2 linked regions of the Homo sapiens genome follow. The protein of the gene in region 2 interacts with the protein of the main gene of each other region in a pairwise test. Each region holds a gene or a part of one and is shown on either strand. Other genes may lie near its edges.

The links. Proteins that work in one complex are often made in the same cells at the same time.
Region 1: the proteins of EID2B (region 2) and MAGEE1 interact in binary tests that used the Homo sapiens proteins (3 or more experiments, as listed by UniProt).

The regions. Positions count from the first base shown.
Region 1 is NC_000023.11:76,423,740-76,430,726, reverse strand, and holds the start of MAGEE1 (melanoma-associated antigen E1), read right to left. Parts: upstream 3,018-6,987; 5' UTR 2,797-3,017; coding exon 1-2,796. UniProt on the Homo sapiens protein: May enhance ubiquitin ligase activity of RING-type zinc finger-containing E3 ubiquitin-protein ligases. Proposed to act through recruitment and/or stabilization of the Ubl-conjugating enzyme (E2) at the E3:substrate complex.
Region 2 is NC_000019.10:39,530,477-39,537,625, forward strand, and holds EID2B (EP300-interacting inhibitor of differentiation 2B), read right to left. Parts: upstream 2,377-7,149; 5' UTR 2,327-2,376; coding exon 1,841-2,326; 3' UTR 511-1,840; downstream 1-510. UniProt on the Homo sapiens protein: Acts as a repressor of MYOD-dependent transcription, glucocorticoid receptor-dependent transcription, and muscle differentiation.

The sequences.
Region 1 (6,987 bases), on a different chromosome or scaffold from region 2:
CTGCTGTGGCCAGTCCTGTGGTTCCTTTCTGTGGATTCTGGCCACATATCGCAAGGCTTTCATCTTAGAGGTTTCCAAACGGGCTCTAGGACCCCATACAAACTCATATTGCACTGGATCACTGTCAGGAACCCGTAAACTGTCTATATAGCGCTGACTCAAGTATCTGCAGGTAATCACATGCTTTCTCCCAGCTTGAACCCCTAAGCCCCGCAGAAAGGCCCAGACTGCAGACTCCCTGGCATGGTTGCCCATAATAAAGATGAAGCTTAGGACCTGCATCAAAAAGTTGTTGCCAGGCCTGTTTGGACTGTCTACGATCTCCTCAGTTTCTTCCATCTCCCTTCGGTTGTACAGAGTATAGGAGTGATTCCTGGGATCAAGTACCACTAGTTCTGTCCCATAGACATGGTTCAGGGTGCGGGCAGCACGATTCAGGAGGTCAGGGAACACTTTGCTGCACTCTCGGCCAATGTAGTACAGAATTCCTTTCTTTGGTATAGGCAGCTTAGTTGAATCCATAAGCAGAAATAACTGCACCAGCTTCCTTGCCTTGCTCTCCAATCTTGACTCAGGCCATGAATGTGGGGCATATTTTGAGGAATAGCTGGAAACCTCTGAATCAGGGGATGGTACCTCTGCAGCAGCTTCCTCAAAAAAGGGCCTCCTAAAGTGAGGGAGAGCCTGCCAACCCTCAGCAAAGGCTCTGGCAGCATCTTCTTCCAGAGCTTCGTTGTATTTCTCTGGCCAATCCATAGGATCTTTGTTATATATTTTCGCCATGAACTTCAGAATTTTCATCTTGGTGGTTTCTAGGTGGGATCTTGGGCCCCAGAAAAACTCATACTCCACTGGTTTACAGTCAGTTACTGGCCTGTAGTCTAAGTAACGCTGCCATACAAACTCCACAGACAGAAGTCTCTTTGGGTTCCCAAAAATGGAAAGCCTCCTTTCCCGCTGCACCCCCATCCTCCAGAGCATTTCCCAAATCTCAGCCTCCTTGGCTTGGTTGCCATTCAGGAATATTTGGCCTAGAATCATCATCAGGAGGCCCATCTTTGGCCCATTTGGGCTCTCTTCTAACCCTTCAAAGGGCACAGGTCCCAGTTTGTTTAACAGAATGTAGGTGTGTGCCTCAGGGTCAAGTTCTCTCAATTCAAACCTAAAAATGCACTCCAGGTGGGCTGCTGCTCGCCTGAGTATCTCAGGAAACTGGTTGCGATATTCTTTAACAATATATTCCCGCATTTCAGACTCCCGGATAGGGTACTTGCTCTGATCCTTCACCAGCAGGAACTGCAACAGCTCAGCTACGTTCTGTTCCATAGGGTCTTGGGGCTTCAGGGTAATTGCAACCCGGGAAGTATTGAGGCCCATAATACTAATGGAGTTGGGGCTCTCACAGTCTCTCAGGACCTCGAATTCTATAGGGCCTTCTGCACCCTTAGGACCCTCAGAATCTGAGTCCACGGAGGCCTTGGTTACCCTAGGGCTTGGCAAAACAAGGGAACACTTGGAGGGGTTCCGGTCCACAGAAGCACTAGAGCTAAACAATGTGCTCGGGCCCTCACCAGGGTTAGGCAGCACGGAGCTTCCCGGTCCGTCAGGGGCGGTGGGCTGCACTAAGGTGCTTGCGCCCTCACCAGGAGTGGGCGGCACGGAGGTGTCCGATCCATCAGAGGCGGTGGGCGGCACAGAGGTGCTCAGTCCCTCACCGGGGATTGGCAGTACGGAAGTGCTTGGTCCCTCACCGGGAGTGGGCGGCACGGAGGTGCTCAACTCCTCAGTGGCGGTGGGCGGCACGGAGGTGCTCAGTCCCCCACCAGGGGTGGGCGGCACGGAGGTGCTCGATCCCTCACCAGCAGTGGGCTGCACGGAGGTGCTCAGGCCCTCGGTGGCGGTGGGGGGCACGGAGGTGCTTGATCCCTTACCGCGGGTGGGCACCAAGGAGATGCTTTGTCCGTCAGAGGCGGCGGGCAGCACGGAGGTGCTCGGTCCCTCACCAGGAGTGGCCGGCACGGAGGTGCTCGGTCCCTCATCACGGGTGGGTGGCACGGGGGTGCTTAGGCCCTCAGTGGCGGTGGGCGGCACGGAGGTGCTCGGTCCCTCATCAGGAGTGGCCTGCACGGAGGTGCTCAGGCCCTCAGTGGCGGCGAGCGGCACGGAGGTGCCTGGTCCCTCACCAGGTGTAGGCAGCACGGAGGTGCTTGGTCCCTCATCAGGGGTGGGCACCACGGAGGTGCTTGGTCCCTCATAGGCTGTGGGCGGCACGGAGGTGCTCGTTCCCTCACCAGGGGTGGGCGGCAGGGAGGTGCTCGGTACCTCAGAGGCGGTGGGCGGCACGGAGGTGCTAGGTTCCTCAGAGGAAGTGGGCGGCCTGGAGGTGTTCCGGCCCTCAGAGGCGGCAAGCGTCACAGAGGTGCACAGCCCCTTAGAGATGGTGGGAGGCCCGGAGGTGCTTAGGCCCTCACTGGGGGTGGGCAGCACGGAGGTGCCAGGTCCCTCAGAGATGGTGGGCTGCCCGGAGGCGCTTGAGGCCTCAGAGATGGTGGGCGGCACAAAGGTGCTTGGGCCCTCAGCGGAGGTGGGCAGAACGGAGGTGCTTGGGCCCTCAGAGGCGCAGAGGCCCTGGAGGATCTGGGAATCGCTGGGACCCTGGGGGACGTCTGAGCCTGGCACATCAGCGGGGAGACCGGGGGCATTAGGGGCCTGCATTTCGCCCCAGCTGCTGTTGTGCGCAGTAGCCTTTGCAACGCGGCGGCGGCGGCGGCGCGAATTCTGGCTTACCAGAGACATGGTCCTGCCCACCGGCGTTGGCGTGTAGGAGCAGACACCGACAGGCCCGCGATCTGGCAGAGAGGACGGGAGGTGTGTAGGTGCCTCGGCACAAAACTGCCGCTAGCGGTAATGATGTTGCTGCTGCTGCCAGAACCAAAGTTCCAAGCAACTGCTGAAGCTGAAATTAGAGGTGGTGAAAAAGGCAGGCACTGGCCAGCAGTGAATGCTAGTCTCACTGTACTCTGCTTCTCACACCCCGCCCTCTGCCGCAGTCCGCGCAGGCGCAGACTGGCTCTGCGGCAAGGCGAAATCGCCCCGCCCCGCCCCTCCCCTGGGCCTGAGAAAGTGGATGCGGTGGTTCTGCACCAAAGGAGAGCACTAGCAGAAGGGAAACTTTGGTAGGGTGAAGCAAGGAGCTTAGAGTAGATGCATTAGGGAGTAAAAATGGAAATAATAATAAATACTTCTCAGATTTAGGGTACGATTGGAGGGCTTCTACACAGAGTGCCAGGCACTTAATAGATTCTCAAAATTGGTAAATATCATTGAGATTTGCAGTTTTCCCGAAGCTGTTTCAAAGAAAATGTGCATTGTCTCTGGAAGGGTAGAACCCCCATCCCTGACCATGTCTCTTCTATCACTTTCTCCATTTATGTGTCTAACTCCTCCCCTAATGTTGTGAGCTAGAAAGAACTCTTTCCTAGAGGGTCTGAATGCCTGAAATTTAGTACCAATTAGGGAGCTTCGAACACGCTTGAAAAGCCCAACATTCCCAGCCCAAACTTTCCCAGTCACCCAGGCTTTAGTGGGAAAGCCACTAAAACTCTTGAAAATTTGTTTAATTCTTTCACTCCACAATCACCTGCTCATTTAATAGAGCTTTTGTGAAAGTCAGTTGAGATACCGAGTGTTAAGGGATGTGTTACCTGCTCTGTTTTGCTCTATTACTCTAGCACTTTTGAGCAGATCCAACCCTGATCCCTTTATTCATTCACTCAACAAACACTGGTCATCTATCCCGAAGTTACAGTTAATCTCTTTGTCATCAAGGAGCACCCGATGTAAAAATGGGAGTCAGAGAAAAAGTAAAGCTAAATTTTCTAGAAGTTTGTAAAGAATGCAGGGGATGGCAGGGTCAGTTCTACCTGTAGATGCAGAAAAGGCTTCATAAAAGAGGAGATGTTTAAAAAGATGAGTGGGTAGATATTTACCAAAAGGACAAGGATGAGAAAATCATTCCAACTGAGAGTAGCACGGCAGCAGTGAGTAAGAAAGAAAACACTGAAGAGGACGGGCAGGCTGTTTTTAGAAGTAGGGGAGAGAGAGAGAGGAAGAGAGATAGAGGGAAAACACTAACTTTCTGACACTCACACAACCACTACAATTCAGCTTACCACTATTGACCCTTTATTGATATGTTTATATCTTGCTGCAAACATTTATTATATGTTGTCTTTCTTTATATCTTCTCAAAAATCTGGGAGTATACTTTTGTCTTTTTTTCTTTTTTTTTATACTTTAAGTTTTGGGGTACATGTGCAGAATGTGCAGATTTGTTACCTAGGTATACACGTGCCATGGTGGTTTGCTGCACCCATCAACCCATCATCTACATTAGGTATTTCTCCTAATGCTATCCCTCCCCTATCTCCCCACCTCTTGACAGGCCCTGGTGTGTGATGTTCCCCTCCCTGTGTCCATGTGTTGTAATTGTTCAATTCCCACTTATGAGTGAGAACGTGTGGTGTTTGGTTTCCTGTTCTTGTGTTAATTTTCTGAGAATGATGGTTTCCAGCTTCATCCATGCCCCTGCAAAGGACATGAACTCATCCTTTTTTATTGCATAGTATTCCATGGTGTATATGTGCCATGTTTTCTTTATCCAGTCTGTCATTGATGGGCATTTGGGTTGGTTCCAATACTTTTTTTTAATACGTCTTTAGGAAAGGGAAAATAACTGGCTACAGTCACAATGTGTCACCATCTCTGTCTCCAATTGGAGAAGCAATCCCTTATATGAATAACCAGTTTCGGTTCTGTGAAGTCCAATGCAGTTTTTATGCCTGGGGCCTATTCAGAATGGGAGGCACAAAAAAACCTAAGATATTTCTAAGCTTTAGCAACAGATATTCCTAACCTAGGGTACAGTGATTTTTAAAGACCCTGAAGTTGTTCAAACCTATAAACTAAAAATTTTTACCTCTAGAAATATATTCTAAAGAAATAATAAGATATATGTGCAAATATTTAGCTAAAATAACTTTTATTATATAATTTGTTCTAGTATAACAGAGCTGAAAACTAAATGAATGTTAAATAACTAAAGAGTATTTGAAGAAATTATGGTACTAAAAATGGAATACCAGTAAGTCATTATAATGATATCAAAGAATTCCATTTCTAATAATGTATAGTTGATTGCAGCAGCCCTGCGGAAAAAAAACCCCAGAAATTTAGGTAAAGAAACCCTTTTATGGCAACAAAGGCTACCAATATAGCATCAGAAACCTATAAAGGCAATGAGGACTTCAAGAGTAATGATCTCAGAAAAAAGGGAAGTGCAAAGAGGTGAGTCTTACATTGTATACAAGTTTGTCACTTAAGGAATTTAATGATTTGTAAGCTGATAATTTGGAATTCTGAACTTACTGAAATAGTACATCAAAAATGAAGGCAAAATAAATACATGTTCAGAAATCAGTGCTGAGTAAATTGATCACCAGTACACCCACACTGAGGAAATACTGAAAGGTTCTCCTCTGAAACTGAAGAGATGCAAGAAGCGAACAGTAATAGAAAGGATAAATATGTGGGTAAACAGACATATTGACAATGTAAAACAATAATAATAATATGTTTTGTGTAATTTATATGTAGAATTAAAATATAGGAAACAAGTGAGTGCAAGAGATTTGGGGACTGATCAAGAAAAATATATACTACCACACGTTTTCAGTAACACACAATGAGTTTTTGTTGTTTGTCTGTTTTAGAATTTCAACTTTTATTTTAGATTCTGGGGATACATACACAGGTTTGTTATATGGGTATATTGCATGATGCTGAGGTTTGGAAAACAGATGATCTCATCACCCAGGTAGTGAGCATAATACTCAACAGTTTTTCAACCCATGACCCCCTTTCTTCTTCCCCCTTCTAATAGTCCTCCAGTGTCTGTTTTTGCCACCTTTATGTTGATGAGTACCCAATCTTTAGCTCCAACTTATAAATGAGAACATATGGTATTTGGTTTTCTGTTTCTGTGTAAATTCGCTTAGGATAATGGCCTTCAGCTGCATCCATGTTGCTGCAAAGGACATTATTTCATTAGTTTTTATGGCTGTGTTGTATTCCATGGTATATATGTACCACATTTTCTTTAGCAAATATCAGTGATAGACACCTAAGTTGACTCCATGTCATTGCTCTTGTTAATAAGGCTGCAAACAACTATGAGTGTATGTGTCTTTTTGGTTGAATGATTTCTTTTCTTCTGGATATATGCCCGATAATGTGATTACTGAATTGAATGGTAGTTGTGTTTTATGTTCTTTGAGAAATCTCCAAACTGCTTTCTATAGTGGTTGAACTATATATAGTGTTTATTATTACTAATTTACATTCCCACCAACAGTGTATAAGCATACGAGTTTCATTTGGTCAACCCTTTGACAGGTTTGCAAGGGCATGGGGTTAATCAAAGTCTGAGATCTTCCAGAGGCTGGTGGGAGGTCACAACCTAGAAAATGAGAGGACAAGCTAACTGGAGAGAGGGAGGGGAATCAAAGAGATGGCTTATACATGTAGCGATGTCTCTCAGCAGCAAGACAGGGAGTTGCTGGGTCAGAGATCTCTGAAGGGCAGCAGTAGGTTAGGGTTTTTATCTCCTGGAGTTTATCCTATCTATAGCTAACAGATGATTGTAGTTTCACAGGGACATGCAAAGAAGGCAGCCTCTAAATGGCTAACAATCTACTTATTGGTCTATATTTAAAACAATTGATGTGTAAAAAATTGAGTTTGGTACTGGCAGAATCAATATATAGAGACTATCTTTGGCTCATGCATATAACAGTCCATCCCCTGGCCCAATGTTGTCTTATAATTAAAATTGTATGTTATTTTGCAGTGCCTAAGTTTCTTGCCAGAAATAAAGGAGACAGAATCCTATAAGGGTACAAACAAGGATTTCAAAACCCTTTCATAGCC
Region 2 (7,149 bases):
AGCTGAGATTGCACCACTGCACTCCAGCCTGGGTGACAGAGCAAGACTCTGTTTCAAAAAGAAAAAAAAAAAACAGTGTATTATGGAAAACGAGTAAACACGTATAAATGCATAGAAAATGTTAAAACATTTTGCAAACAACCCAGATGTCCAAAAGGTGTCTAGTTCATTATACTAAGATAAGGCTTTACATTGTAGTTGTAAAAAAAAAAACGCCCAGTGGAGTAGCTCACGCCCAGCACTTAGTACTTTGGGAAGCCGAGGCAGGAGGAACAGTTGAAGCCAAGAGTTGGAGACAAGCCTAGAAAACATAATGAGGCCCCATCTCTGTTTCTATATATAAAAAAAGAAAAAAAAAACCCTGATATATAAATCTCTCCATATATAACTGAAAAAACCCAAGATGCTGATAGAGGTATACAATATGTTACCTTGATTTTATATTTTTAAAAATTTATACCTCGTGATGCAAGTTAACTACCTTGATATTAAAAGGGAAAATGCACAATATTTAGATTGATGTTTATTTGCATATGCATTAGAAAACCTGAAAGGCGTACAGTGAAAAAGCAAAAAACAAGCAAAACCAAGAAAACAACAACAAAACTCCAAGCCACAAGCAATGGCACCTGCATGGAATAGTTCTGAGTTTGGCAAAGGACAGCAACAAGAGAGATTTCTCACAGCATCTTTTGATACTTTTTTTCTTTTTTTTGAGACGGAGTCCCACTCTGTTGACCAGGCTGGAGTGCAGTGGCGTGATCTCGGCTTACTGCAACCTCCGCCTCCCAGGTTCAAGTGATTCTCCTGCCTCAGCCTCCCGAGTAGCTGGGACTACAAGCGCGTGCCACCACACCCAGTTAATTTTTTATTTTTCGTAGAGATGGGGTTTCACCATGTTGGCCAGGGTGGTCTTGAATTCCTGACCTCAGGTGATCCACCCGCCGTGGCCTCCCAAAGTGCTGGGATTACAGGCGTAAGCCAGTGCGCCCGGCCGATACTTTTTTTTGTTGAGTCTTGTGAATAGAATACATATTCTAGAATAAAATAAAAAGCTTAAAATTAACAAAAAACAAGTTTATTCCACACCTACCCAATTTCACATAGACTTGAAAACACTGATCATATAATACGTGGTTTTTTCTATTGAATATTTACTGTTCATCTAAAGTACCTCAGAAAACACAAATATGAATCTTACACTAGGATTTGTTGACATGACCACAAATTGTGAAATTTCAAAGTCCTCTCAATAGCCTTCCAATCCTAGTAACTCAGGTACACCTGGATTCCTGACAACTCTATTTCTTTGTTTTCTTTCATCACTTAGGTTCATTTCTATGGGTTCTGTTATTGGCATTTTTTTTTTCTCATATCTTTGCAAAACCATCCTTTATGGTGAAAGTCATGAAGGATTCTTCACAAATGCAGGAAAATGCATTGCTAACAAAGTGCTAAGTCAGAAGTGTCTTGGGACCTGTTTGAAAACAAGATTCGGCCGGGCGCGGTGGCTCACGCCTGTAAAGTAATCCCAGCACTTTGGGAGGCCGAAGCGGGAGGATCGCTCGGGTCCAAGCGTTCGGGACCAGCCTAGGGATGCGAGACTCCCTTCTCTATTTAAATAATACTAAAAAAGAAGAAAGAAAACAAGATTCAACAGTCTTGTCTGTTTCCATTTCGGAGTGTGCTTCCTCCTTCAATTGCACATTGCCGTATTCCCTTCCAGTTTGCATTCCCCCTAATGACTGAGTTAACTAAACTGGCACAGCCTGCCTGTTCTTTTGATCCCAAAAGGGTCACTTGGCTATTCCTTGCCACCAATGTCATCATCACAGCCGACTCAGTCGGCCAGAGGACTGAGGGCCTCGGAGGCAGTCAGCGCTACCGTAAACGCGACAGCAGCGAAGTCCATCTGCGGGGGATCCGCGTCAAAGGCTGCTTCCCTCGCCTTGCAGCCTTCCACAAACAGCCTGCGGCGTTCCTCGAAATCCCGTAGTAATCTGACCGGAATCATGGAGCTACCATCCAGATACTCGCGGAACAACAGCTGCCGGTTAATTTCTAAGAAAGCGAGCTGCTGATGGGGGTCTGGCGCGGAGGCCAGGCCCGGGACGCTGCTGGGGATGGGCCCGGGCACAGGGCCCGGCATCCGCGCCATGGACCGCGCAGCTTCGGCCACTGGGCCTTCCCGAGCCTCCTGCACCCGAACCCCGCCGCCGACTGCCCCCCGCAGTACGTCGCTGACGCCACTCGCGGTGCCCACCTGTGGGACACTGCTATCTCCGGGGAGCTCGGACATCTCCAACAGCCCAGTCGGCTCCGCCATAGTCCCAGCGTTTCTACGGAGACTGGAATAACGGCACTGCACTGCTGTATGCGAGACCTGCGCATGCGCGAGTCTCAGTGAGCGCGTAAACGCTGTGCGTGCCAGAGTGTGCGCATGCGTAAGCACGGTGGCCAATCCTCTAGCGTTCCCTAGCGGTCCTGAGTAGCCATTACGTCTGTAGCCGCCTCTGGTCCTCTGAGCGCCTGAGGACCTGCGGACTGCGCGGTATCTTAAATTACAACCACTTCAGTATTAATGTAAAGTTCCTTATACGGTCATTTTCCAGCTCCTGTCTTTTTTTTTTTTTTTTCAGACTGGGTCTCGCCCTGTCGCCTAGGCTGGAGTGCAGTGGTGCGATCTCGGTTACTGCTGCTTTGACCTCCCAGCCTCAAGCCATCCTCCTGCCTCAGCCTCTGGAGTAACTGGAACTACAGGTGCACACAACCACACCCAGCTGATTTTTTATTTTTTGTAGAAATTGGGTCTCACTATGTTGCCCAGGCTGGTCTCGAACTCCTGGACTCAAGTGATCATCCTGCCTTGGCCTCCCAAAGTGCTGGGATTACCGGCCTGAGCCACTCGGCCTGGCCTGTAAGTAATATTTTGACACTGGAAGTTTGGGGGTTTCCCAAAACCACCTTTAGGTTTGATAATTCCCAGAGCTCATTGAAATCTGTTATATTCACAGTCATGCTTATTACAGGCAAAGGACACAGATTAGAAGAGATGTATAAGGCACAATCTGGGATGGGGAGGGTTCCAAATGTGAAGTTCCTGTGTTCCTAGGGATGTGTTACCCTTTGTCGTCCATGTGTGGCAATAAGTGTGGGGGTAGTGCTAACATAGGACTCTCACCCAGGCTTTGGTGTCCAGAGTTTTTACTGGGGTTTTACTACCTAGGCATGCTTGATTAAACCATCGTCCATTTTGTTGAAGTCAATCTCCAGCCTCCTACCTGATATCACATGGCTCCAAGCCCCAACTCTCTAATGATATGGTTAGCCTTTCTGTGTGGCTAGCTCTGATCCTGATGATAACCCAAAACGTGAAAGTCTATGTTCCATTTAAAATCAGTCAGCTGTGGCTGGGTGTAGTGGCTCATGCCTGTAATCCCAGCAAGTTGGGAGGCAAAGGTGGGAGGATCGCTTGAGCCCATGAGTTTGAGACCAGCCTGGGCAACATAGTGAGACCCCTGTCCCTACAGAAAAAAAAAATTAGGCAGGCATGGTGGCATGTGCACCTGTAGTCTCAGCTATTCAGGAGGCTGAGGTGGGAGGATGACTTGAGCTTGGTAGGTGGACTGTGCAGTGAGCTATGATTGCACCACTGCACTCCAGCCCTGTATGACAGAGCAAGACCCTGTCTCGAAAAAAAATCCTTTGAATTTAGCTGGAATCCAAATATGAGAGTTGCTGGCAATTGAACTTCAGGAGGATCCATCTAAAAATTCTGACCTATCACAGGTCGTGTCTGGGAGCTGATTGGGTTGGAAATCATTCTGACTCACGTGTACCTTACTTTGTTTCTACAGTTCTCTTGGAGAGATGGAGTTCTCCTACATGTGACATATATGCTTCAAAAAGCACATTTGTGATATTCCACAGAAGACAAAAGAAAGGACTTCTCTGGAAGGTAACTTCAAGGGGACAACAACAGAGCTATGGACTGCAGGAAGATGGCCTGCTTCTCTTCCAGTGTGATTTGGATCATGGCCATTTTGAAGCCTTTGAACTGGGATTAGTTGCTGGGCTGGGTCATCAGGAACTTGCGTGTCCATCTCAGGGAGACCTGGCCTTCAGAAATGACAGCATTCGGCCCCAGGAGGAGCCTGCAATTCGGCCTCAGTCTTCCCAGCGTGTGCTGCCCATGGGGATACAGGACAGTAAGGAGCTAAGCAGAACCTGCTGCCTGAATGGGGGAACCTGCATTGGGGTCCTTTTGTGCCTGCCCCCCGTCCTTCTATGGATGGAACTGTGAGCACGATGTGTGCAAAGAGAACTGTGGGTCTGTGCTCCATGACACCTGGCTGCCCAAGAAGTGTTCCCTGTGTAAATGCTGGCACGGCCAGCTCTGCTGCTTTCCTCAGGCATTTTACTGGCTGTGATGGCCTTGTGATGGATGAGCATCTCATGGCTTCCAGGACTCCAGAACTACCACCGTCTGCATGTACCACTTTTATGCTAGCTGGCATCTGCCTTTCTATACAAAGTTACTATTAATTGACACTGACCTATTTCCAGAAATACCATTTTAGATATCATGCAAATTTCATGACCAGTAAAAGCTGCTGCTACAATGAAAGATGATCATTTGTTAGTTTACTTAAAATAATGAGTATATTTCCAAAATGGTCTCTAACATTTCCTTACAGTATCAACAACTTCTTACTTCTTTGCCCTGCCCTCTCCCAAAAAACGACTTCTTTTTTCAAAAGAAAGTCAGCCATATCTCCACTGCACCCAAGTCCAGTGTTTCTTTCTTTTTTTGAGATGGAGTCTCGCTCTGTCACCCAGGCTGGAGTGCAGTGGCACGATCTCAGCTCACTGCAACCTCTGCCTCCTGGGTTCAAGCAATTCTCCTGCCTCAGCCTCCCCAGTAGCTGGGATTACAGGCATGTGCCACCATGCACGACTAACTTTTTTGTATTTTTAGTAGAGACCGAATTTCACCATATTGGCGAGGTTGGTCTTAAACTCCTGACCTTGTGATCTGCCTGCCTTAGCCTCTCAAAGTGCTGGGATTACAGGCGTGAGCAACTGCTCAAGGCCTCGTGTTTATTGATACATGTAATTCTACCAAGGTCTTCTTAATATGTTCTTTTAAACGACTGAATTATATCTTCAGATTATTAAAGACTAATCTTAATGTGGACCTTAGGATACAGTTTTGAGTAGAGTTGATCAAAATCAATTAACATTGTCTCTTTAAAAGGAAAGACAGCCTCTTTAAGGCGAGGAACCAGAGTGATGAAGGAATGGAAGTCTGTCTGCATGTGTGCAGGGAGACTGGGTAAGAAAGAGGAAGCAAATGGGAGAGAGAGGTTGGAAAACATAAAATAGGTTATTTAACTGGTGATTAGGTGGGTGTAGAGAAGCAAGTTAAAAGGCTAAATGGAAGGGCAAGTTTCCATCATCTAATGAAAGATATATAAGACAAGGACTCCCCTTTTTTTCCTAAAGGCATTGTAAAAAGAATTGATTTTTAGACGGAGTCTCGCTCTGTCGCCAGGCTGGAGTGCAGTGGCGCAATCTCGGCTCACTGCAACCTCTGCCTCCCAGGTTCAAGTGATTCTCCTGCCTCAGCCTTTGTAAAAAGTCTTTTTAGAAAAAATATTATACCTCAATGTCCCCAACAAAATTGCTTAATAAATTATGCTTCCTCCAAGCTATGCAATTCTTTTAACTGTTGTAGAAGAGAAAATGTTCAGTGTATTTAGTTGTAAACCAAGTGATAAAACCACATATTGTAAAGCTCATTTAAAAAATACATTGTATATATGTGTATGCACAGTAAAAATGGAAAATATATTGAAAAAAAATTTGATCCTTATATTGTACCTGAGAATAAATTTCAAATGGCTCAAAGATTCAAATGTGGACAATGAAACCACACACACACACACCCAAGACTACCTTAGGATTCAAAATACTGCAGGTTTATTTATTTTTTATTTTTTGAGACAGGATCTCACTTTGTCACCCATGCTGGAGCTTGCTGGGCTCAAACGATCCTTCTACCTCAGCCCCCAGAGTAGATGGGATTAGAGGCTTGTGCCACTACACCAGGCTAATTTTTCATATTTTTCATAGAGACAGGGTTTCGCCATGTTGCCCAGGCTGGTCTTGAACTCCTGAGCTCAAGTGGTCTGCCTGCCTCAGCCTCCCAAAGTGTGGGATTACTGATGTGAGCCACTGTGCCCGGCCTCCTGCAAATTTAAAGGAAAATAGGCAACAAAAATTACCATGGCCAAAGGCTTTCCAAAAAGCCAAAATCTAATGACAACTTGTGAAAAAATATTCGTAACTCATATCCCAAGCTATTATCATACCTCATATCACTAACATGAGTATCATAAATAGCTACTGGATTCAATGAAGAAAGGACAAAATTATCTGGGAGGGGAATGGATAAAGAATATGAACAAGGCATGGTGGCTCACACCTATAATCCCAGAACTTTGGGAGGCCAAGGAGGGAGGATCATCTGAGGTCAGGAGTTGGAGACTAGACTGGCCAACATGGTGAAACCCATGTTAAAAATACAAAATGAGCCAGGTGAAGTGGCATGTGCCTGTAATTCCCGTTATTTGGGAAGCTGAGGCACGAGAATCGCTTGAACCTGGGAGGCGGAAGTTGCAGTGAGCTGAGATGGTACCACTGCACTCCAGCCTGGGCGAGAGAGTGAGACTTTGTCTAAAAAAAAGAGTATGAACAGAGAGTTTATGGAAAAGGGAATATATATGACTCTTAAAAGATATTTAACTGGCTGGGTGCGGTTGCTCACGCCTATAATCCCACCACTTTGGGAGGCCGAAGTAGGTGGATCACCTGAGGTCAGGAGTTCAAAACCAGCCTGGCCAGCATAGTGAAACCCCATCTCTACTAAAAATACAAATTAGCCAGGTGTGTTGGTGCATGCCTGTAATCCCAGCTCTTGGGAGGCTGAGGCAGGAGAATCCCTTGAGCCTGGGAGGTGGAGGTTGCAGTGAGCCAAGATCGCACAATTGCACTCCAGCCTGGACAACAAGAGTGAAACTCCCATCTCAAAAAAAAAAAAAAATTTAACTTCGCTCATCATAAAAGCGAATTAAAACTGATATACCA